2 separate regions of the Homo sapiens genome follow, and region 2 is linked to region 1. The links come from fine-mapping of genetic effects on gene expression. A gene starts in region 1. The other region holds a variant in brackets. All regions are shown on one strand. Distances are between the middles of the regions.

What was found.
Region 2: its variant is fine-mapped to the expression of POU2AF1 in whole blood (TOPMed, PIP 0.97).

Annotation. Positions count from the first base shown.
Region 1 is chr11:111,376,770-111,381,038 of GRCh38, forward strand. POU2AF1 (POU class 2 homeobox associating factor 1) reads right to left here and starts at 2,506. Exons shown (of 5, transcript NM_006235.3): 1 at 2,393-2,506. The coding sequence starts at 2,408. RefSeq lists enhancers at 2,433-2,482, 3,133-3,222, 3,443-3,662.
Region 2 is chr11:111,423,118-111,427,386 of GRCh38, forward strand. It overlaps a transcript of BTG4 not described here. Among named protein-coding and RNA genes, the nearest start is that of POU2AF1, 46 kb to the left of the region's middle. The variant T/C (reference allele first, on the strand shown) is at 1,649.

The DNA.
Region 1 (4,269 bases):
GACTCTAAGTGGGCTGACATGCTGCCCTGTTTTTACTGATTTTCCCACACGGTTTAGTCACCCAGGTGCCCTCTATACCACATACTTGGGTTCAGGCTAAGGGGGTGGGTCCAGAGCCCAGGGTCTCTCCTACTTTTCCTTTAAGGCTTAAAGGACAATTCAAGATAATTTTGATTTGTGTTCATCTGAACATGTGGAAACATTCACCCCAGTTATTCCATTGATGAGCTTACAATGTGGTCTCCCTTACAATGGAGTTTTGATCTATCTGACTGGTCTCCAGGGTGTGAGCAGGAAGCATGCCCTCCAGCATCCCCTTTAAAAAATTTGGGGGACAGGTGCAGTGACTCACACCTGTTTGGGAGGTCAAAGCGGGTGGATCACTTGAGTCCAGGAGTTCGAGACCAGGCTGAACAACATAGTAAAACACCATCTCTACTAAAAATACAAAAAAAAAAAAAACAGCTGGGTGTGGTGGCGGGCACCTGTAGTCCCAGCTACTAGGGAGGGTGAGGCGAGAGAATCACTTGAACCCAGGAGGCAGAGGTTGCAGTGAGCCGAGATCGCGCCACTGCACTCCAGCCTGGGCAACAGAGCAACACTCTGTCTCAAAAAACAAACAAACAAACAAAAAAAGTCTGTTCATCTCTTAGAAGGAATTAGAAATGAAAAAATGTACTACAGAACCAAGAGGGGAGAATATGGCAGATGGTGAATGCAGGGAAGCAACTCATATCTCAGAGGCTGATGCAGACAGAGCAATGAACATGACTTCGGTGGCACCTCACTTACTAAGGATAGATCCTCAGTGTGGATATGATTTTTACCCCCACTTAACATACAAAAAACCTAAGGATTGAGAAAAAGGAAAGTGGCTTGCTCATAGAAGGTAGGAGCTGAGGCAAAACTCCTTCCAGGGGCTCACACAAAAATCAAATGATTCAGCCCTGAGTGAAAGGGCACACAGATGCTTAGGGGCCCCCAGTAAAAAGATGAATGCCCACCTGCTCTCATCCACACAGCACTCACAACAGGGTCAGCTGCCATTGTCCCAGAAAGGATAGGCTGCCGCTGCTCCATCGCCTGTTGGGAAGAGTGGCGTGCCAACAATTCTTGAATATTCCTAGTTATCTTGGAAGGAGTCCATAACTCTCAAACCCAAATTAAAGCTCATTTCTCTTTATTTTTTTAAAAAATTGACCTTTTGATATCAAACAATGGTGGGTCTTCACAACCTGAGAAATTTTGAAATCACTCTTCTGTGTTACTGGTTAATCAGCTTAATTCCAGAGAAATTTACATAAGACATAAAGCAAACAATAAATTGGTGATGACAGTGTCACATTTTAATCAATGAAGTTATATTTTCCGAACTTTAGTGGATCCAATCAAGTATCTTTCCATAAAATAAAAACATTCCCTAATATATCTTCTTCTGTAAATCTAGATTCTCTTATATTAAGCTTGCTTGAGGCACAGCATACTAAAATTAATTAAAACGAATTTTAAGGAACCAAGAATCTTTAAGAGAAAGACAGAGCAATTTTTGGTCATTCTTCTTGCTTGAGGAAGTATAGAACTAGCCCCAATAAGGTTCAACTCTCAGAAGCTGATGAGTTGACGCTGTTTACCTCGTGAAAAGAATGTTGTAAATAATCTGTATTATTTCAGTTATTAGTAAGGTAAGTCGCTGTTTGGTCCACATAAAGGAAAATAAAGTTCACAATTGTTTCATCCAACTCCGGGGATAAAAATCAAGGCCAAAGATAAACCCACTGCATCCTTTGCAGTGGGATGGACAAGCCTTGTCACAGAAGGGGAAAAAGAATGACGAAAGGCAAGACAGTGGAGCAAGTGAGGACACGCTTCACCGAGCCAGATCTCCACTCCTCCCAGGGTATCCACAGGGACAAGTCACACCTGGCAGAAAGCTAAGTCACTCAGCTAGAAACAGGCCCAGGGAATTCAACAGAAGGCTGAAGAGCCACTGCTTATGGAAATAAAGCCCCTCCTGTAAAGAACTGCATGGCTTTTCCCTCCCAACCCCAAACCCATCCCACATCTGGCTTTTGTTGTGTGAATCATAAACTGCCCTTTCTTCACCACAGTGATTCATGCACAGAAGCGGAGGTACCCTGAGCCGTCCCACCTTGGAACACTAGTTCGTTCCCCTCCAGCCTGGAAAATCAGCATCACCTCTGACAGGCTGGTTTCTCCACCAGGCTCCATCCCGCCCACCTCCCCCCTCCCTGCTCCGGGGCTTGGAACCCAGACCCCCTCCCCCCGTGGCCCCATCACCTCCACCACCAGCTCCCCAATTCCAGACCAAGCTGTGATCGCCCTGCCCCGCTGGCACTCGCTTGGGTCTGACAGCCACAGCCAAACCACTTACGTTTTTGCCAGAGCATGGCCTGTGACAGGATGTTGCCTTTTCTCTTTGAAGCCGACAGTTTGGCTTCTTTAATGTGAGACCGGGGTGTGTTTTCCTCCAGTGGAGCCACCGCTTGAGCTGAGGCTGTTTCCTGGGCTTTTTAAAGGCCTGGGTTCCCGCTGCGTGGGCCGCGTCATCACATCCTCCCACCTCAGGCACCGGTGCAACGTTTCTGCAGCCAGGCCGCCTGTCACCCCACTGTGCGCGCCCCAGCGGCCCCGGCCCAGAGCGCTCCACACTCGGAGCTAGCCAGCTGGGACAGAGCAACAGCGCAGCGCGGGCAGCCACAGCCTGCACCGGCCCCGCGGGGACCTGCTGTGTGTGGGTGTGAAGGTGGTGTGGGGCAAGCTGTGGGAACCCCGTGTCAAGCCCTCCCCAGGCCAGTGATGAGCCCAAAAGCTCCTCTGGAAAACGTTGATCTTTGCACGGCGCCCATGCAGGCTTCCAGGCCACCAGGGCATGGGCAGGACTCAGCCCGCCATGGGCGCCTGCTCAGCGGGAAATGCGATTCCCAGGGGTCACTGGTTCTCAACTGGGAGGAAACACCTGTCATCTCTTCAAGCCTCAGTAAACAACCTCCTCATTCTTTCAATATTGCTTTTCTGTTTATTCCATTTTGAAACACAGTAGCCCCTCCCCTCGCCCCCAGCCACCCCCAAAATGGCAAGGCTTAATCATGCTGAAATATGGGGGCGCTGGCTCTGATGTCGGCTATGCCCACGGAAAAAGAGGCCAACCCTCAAGGAAGGAAGGAGAACATGCCCGTGCTCTTTGACTGGATCTGGGCTTGTAGGCACAAGATGAACAGAGCCTCTTTGCGAGTGCCCACCCACTGATAACAGGAAGCTTCTTTAAGTAAGTCATGGGCTCACCATCTGGAAGTGTAGATGGTGTTGGCTACCGGTTCCTTCACAGTTTGGAAGCCTTCTGCCACTGCATATCTGAGGTCCACATGCTCAGGCTCCAGGGACTCAGTCAGTTTGGGGTCAAGACCCCTTGGCACACCCCCTAGAGCAGGTGTGGGGCCTTGCTGCTCTGCCATCCATACTGCCTCAGAGCCATCTTGCACCACCTAGACCTGATCATGCTATCCCCTAGCCTACAAAGCATTCACCTTCTCCCTTCAGCCACAGAGCTGGAGGCCTAGAAGGCCTCCCACAATCGAGCCGTTGCCTTCCTTTCCAGCCTCACCACCAACTGCCCTCCTACCACTGGTCCCAGTGCCCTCTAAGCACCACCAAACACCCATGCAATTCCCTGCCTTTGACCTTGCCGTCCTCTCTTGCCGGAAGGACAAACCCCCAGCCCAGAGAATACTTGTTCGTCTTCTCAGATCTTAGAGCACTTTGTTCATTATGTGATGGTGAATTGTCACATGACTCTGACAGTTTCTCAAGGAGGTTTCATCTTTGCCTCTCCAGTGCCCCACACAAGACCTGGAGCATAGTGACCCCCAATAAAAATTCATCTGATAAAGTTATGAATTACTGTCTCTAATCGGTTGCTGATTTGAGGGCAGGTCTTGAGGAGAAATGCTGTCAACATTTTATAAATGATTCACTTAAAAGCCAGAGAAGGCTGTCTCCTGGCTGCCTATAAGCCCTCCCCGCAAAGCCTCTGAAGTTCAGGACAGTGGAGGCCCCCATGCTGTGGTGGCTGGCAGCCCACACCCTGGCCTGGCAGGGGGCAGCATCTCAAGGCCTTGGGCTGCGCCAAGGAGTTTCCATGAGAAACAGAGGCACATCCCTCAGGCCTGCCTCAGTCACAGGAGACGTGGGTTCCCATGAAGGCTCTGACACTCACTCACTGTGTCCCCTTCAACAAGTCACATAACTCTT
Region 2 (4,269 bases), 46 kb after region 1:
GGCCACTCCTAAGCCTTCCTCAGGTGCCTAGATAGCCCCTCCACCCCGAGTCAGCAAGAAGGGCCACCGCAGTGACAGAGCTCCCCCTACTGAGAGCTCGCTGTGGTGGCGGGCCCGGGAGACCGAATGAGGCACTCTCTCCCCTAGAAATTAGATTCTGGGAACATCTTCCAACTCTCCCCCAATCCACTGCTCCCAAATAAGGGCAGCATTATCTGGAAGATCCTAAGAATCAAATCCTTTTACATCAGTGCCATATCTCCATTGTCAAAACTTGAAATAACTCCCAGGACAGGCCCTTAGCCCAGCCTGGGCCAGACTAATGGCATGTGTTCCAAGGTCCCCACTGCACCGATCTCAAAGCATCATGTGCACCAAACCATTCAGTTAAGCATTCCTACTAACTACCTCCCAGAGAGCTGGCCTACCCCTCCCCAAAGGAATTCTTAGACACCTTGCCCACCCTTACACCACAGGCAGCTGAGCCCAAGCTGACAACTTCCAAAGGACCTGTCGATATCAATGACAATAAATAATAATATAACATGCTTGGTTCTCAAAGTATATGACATTCATTTAATACACAAAAACAATGCCACCACCCTCAAAAAATAGATATCACCATCAGATGAGGAAATTAAGGCATAGAAAGATGAGAGACATGCCAGGATGAAAACTCAGCTCCTTACACATAAAGACCACTTTCTGGAGGAGCTGTGAGCTGAGGACTGTTAAGACGAAAGGACATTGGAACCAGGAAATCTCCGAGGCCTGAGCTCCTTTCAGGGCCCTGCCAGAAGAGGAGGCCGAGAAAGCCAGACCTCTCCCTCCCCAGGTGCTAAGTCACCACAGAGACCCTCCCCAGGTCACCACAGCCTTAGAACCACCACCACCAGTGGTGACAGAAGCCTCATGGAGGAGCAAAATAGGTGAAGGGAAATGAGCACAGGCTCAGAGGCTTGACCAGCCTCTCCCATCCTGCCCATCGCAAGAAACATGTTCTTCAGAGAGCTCTTAGCTAGAGAAACACTAAAGGCCCTCACAGGTTCATCTTTAGGGCATCTCCCATCCACAGCCCAAGTCGATACAATCCAGTGCCCCAGGATACTGAGAGTGACACGGATAGATGATGCTCAATTTGGGAAGCAGCAAGGGCAAGGAAAGCAAGGAAACTAGCCTGGGCTCTAGAGCTGGATGACTTACAAAATGTTGGTGTCACTATCTAAAAACAAAGGAGTCAAGAGGAACACCATGGGGTGAGAAAGGAGATGATGAGTTAACGCGAAAATGCTGGGCGTCCTGCCCCACAACTTGGCATGGAATTCACCTCAATATAATTTTTGCTGTAAGATGACAGTGCTAATTTGTTCACATTTATTACAGTTGGTTAATCCACCCAAATAATTCATTTATTTGAGGCCAATAAACTGAATGCTAACTGGCCTCAAAGTCATTCATCATCATTAAGTGGTAAGGTTATGTGGTTATTAATAAACCAAGCCTGCAGATAAAAGATTTACGGTCACTTAAGCATTTGTTTATTAATTCAATAAAATTAGGCCAGATGTAGTGGCTGACGCCTGTAATCCCAACACTTTGAGAGCCCGAGGTGGGTAGATCACCTGAGGTCAAGAGTTCGAGACCAGCC[T/C]GACCAATATGGTGAAACCCCGTCTCTACTGAAAATACAAAAATTAGCCAGGCGTGGTGGCAGGTGCCTGTAATCCCAGCTTACTCAAGAGGCTGATGCAGGAGAATCACTGCAACCTGGGAGATAGAGATTGCAGTGAGCCAGGCTGTATTAGGTACTTTAAAAGATTAATAAAAACAAGCCCGGTCCCCAAGTAGCTCAAACCTTACTAGAGAAGAGATGTGATGTCAAGGGCCATGAGAGGGGACAAACTGCCATGGCAGTTTAGAAAGCGGATGAGCAGGTCCTTCTGTACAATCATAGAGGGCTACATGAAGGAAGGCGCCATTTGGGCTGGACCTGGGAAAATGGGTAGGTGTGGAACAAACTTTTATCATGGGGCATGCATTCCAGGCAGAACGTGTGCAAAGGAGGAGGTAGGAAAAATGAAGGGTATTTTTTAGAAGCAGTAAGGATTCCTGGAAGACAGTGGCAGCATTTCTGGGTAGGGGGTTCACAGGTGTTGTTGAGGCCCTGCTGCATGCCAGGCACTCTGTACCATAGGCAGGCTCCATGCTGATCATGGAGATAAACACATACACAAAAGACACAGGAGCCCTGGCCTCATGGAGCTCATAGTCCCTCCAAGGATACAGTCGAAAAAGAAGACTGGAGAGCCCCCAGTGCTGACCATTTAAGGAGCCTGGGGACTTGGGGGTTAGCAATGGAGAGTTAATGACAGTTTTTAATGCTGCAAGGTTATGATCAGCGCCTTTTAGAAGATTTATCTGGCCCGATAGTAGAAGAAAAACTTAAGAAGAAAGACGGGAAATATTGAAATTTCAGTTAAGAAACTACTGTAGTAACCCAGATGAGAGATAATTACCAAAATCAGAGCAGTAGGTAGGAAGAAAAATAGGGTATGAATGCAAGAGATACTAACCAAGCAGACTACACTCAATCTGGGAACTAGCAAGGGCAAGAAAAGCATCGAAATGGATCTGAGGGCGGGCACAGTGGCTGACGCCTATAATCGCAGCTCTTTGGGAGGCCAAGGTGGGAAGATCGCTTGAGCTCAACAGTTTGAGACTAGCCTGGGTAACATAGTGACACCCCATCTCTACAAAAAATTTAAAAATAGCTGGGCATGGTGGCACACACCTGCAGTCCCAGCTACTCGGGAGGCTGAGGTGGGAGGATCACGTGAGCCCTGGAAGTTGAGGATTCAGTGAGCCGAGATTGCGCCACTGCACTGCAGCCTGGATGACAGAGCCAGACCTCGTCTCAAAGAAAGAAAAAAAAGGAGAAACTGACCTGGGCTCTAGTGCCTAGGTGATTTACAGAATGTTGGCATCATTATCCAAAAACCAGGGTGTCAAGAGGAGCACAGCGGGACAAGGAGGAGGGTGATGAGTTCATGTGGGGTATGCTCAGTGTCTTCCCACAATGAGAAAGTGGGTGGTCCAGCCAGAGAGAGGTGAGAATTGCCAAGAAACCATGAAAGCAGTGACAGAGGAAGGGAAGGGAAATGAAAAAAAAATGGAAAGGAGGACTGGATTGAGAGTGGTTGTATCTACACATTGTATAGATCCTCCTGGCAGAAGACTCTAGCACCCATGGTTCTCTCTCCGTGTCTCCAAAGCTCTTTGGAAAGACACTTTCTTTGGCAAAAGAAAAGGAGAACACACAATAGAGAGAATGTACTGCAGAAATATGCATGGCAAATATGGCAGGGATAGGGAAAGGGGTTTGCATTGTAGCGGTGGTGGGTGGACAAGGTGTTTCAATCTGTAGTGTTCCCTTATAGTTCTAGCACACCTTGGGCTCTCCTCTCACAGTGACTCTCCCTCCATGCTCCAGAGATCCTGACTCCTCAGTTTTCCCATTGCTACCAGAGCCCAGGCCGGCCTGAATTCCAGATGATGACCACCACTAGATGAGAAAGACCAGATCAGAAGTCACCCTCTTCACCAGCACCCAAGGCTTCTTCACCTACACTCCCCTTACCACGCCCCTGTATCACACTGCATCAGAGGCAGGCAGGCCCGGGCAGGTTTGGCACAGCCAGCTCCCAGGCCGGTGTGGGAAAGTTAATATCACCCCGGAGTTTACTCAAAGTGTATGTGCCTTAGCAGAGCATGTTTTCTGGAGCTTCCCTGGGAGCTCACCAGCGCCATCAGAACATTTCTCAGTCTTTGCAAACACAATTGATTTACAATCCCACCACTGAAGTCACAAAGACAGAATGAAAATCAACTCCCCACAAGGATATTATTTCCTTGAAGAGACCTAGAATGATCTCAGTGACAGAGTTTCTTCATAAGTGGGTAAGAAAAAGTCCCTGCCTGCCTCCATTTTCTATTGGAACATCTCTTTTCTCTCATAATGCTGTTAAATATACCCCAGCAAAGTGGAGCTACTAAATTGAAATCATTAAGAAAGGATCAGTTCTCTACCCATCTCAGCTCTAGAGACTAGAGGAAAGGTGAGATCCATTCACAATAAGATGCTCTTCTTTCTGGAAAAAGGCAGCCACATCACAGACCTCTCTGAGCTGTGAAATTGAGCAGGACCCTTTGGTAGAGGCCTAGAGAGAGGGGCCCATGGCGGTCAAGAATAATCATGGCCGCTCACCCAGCACT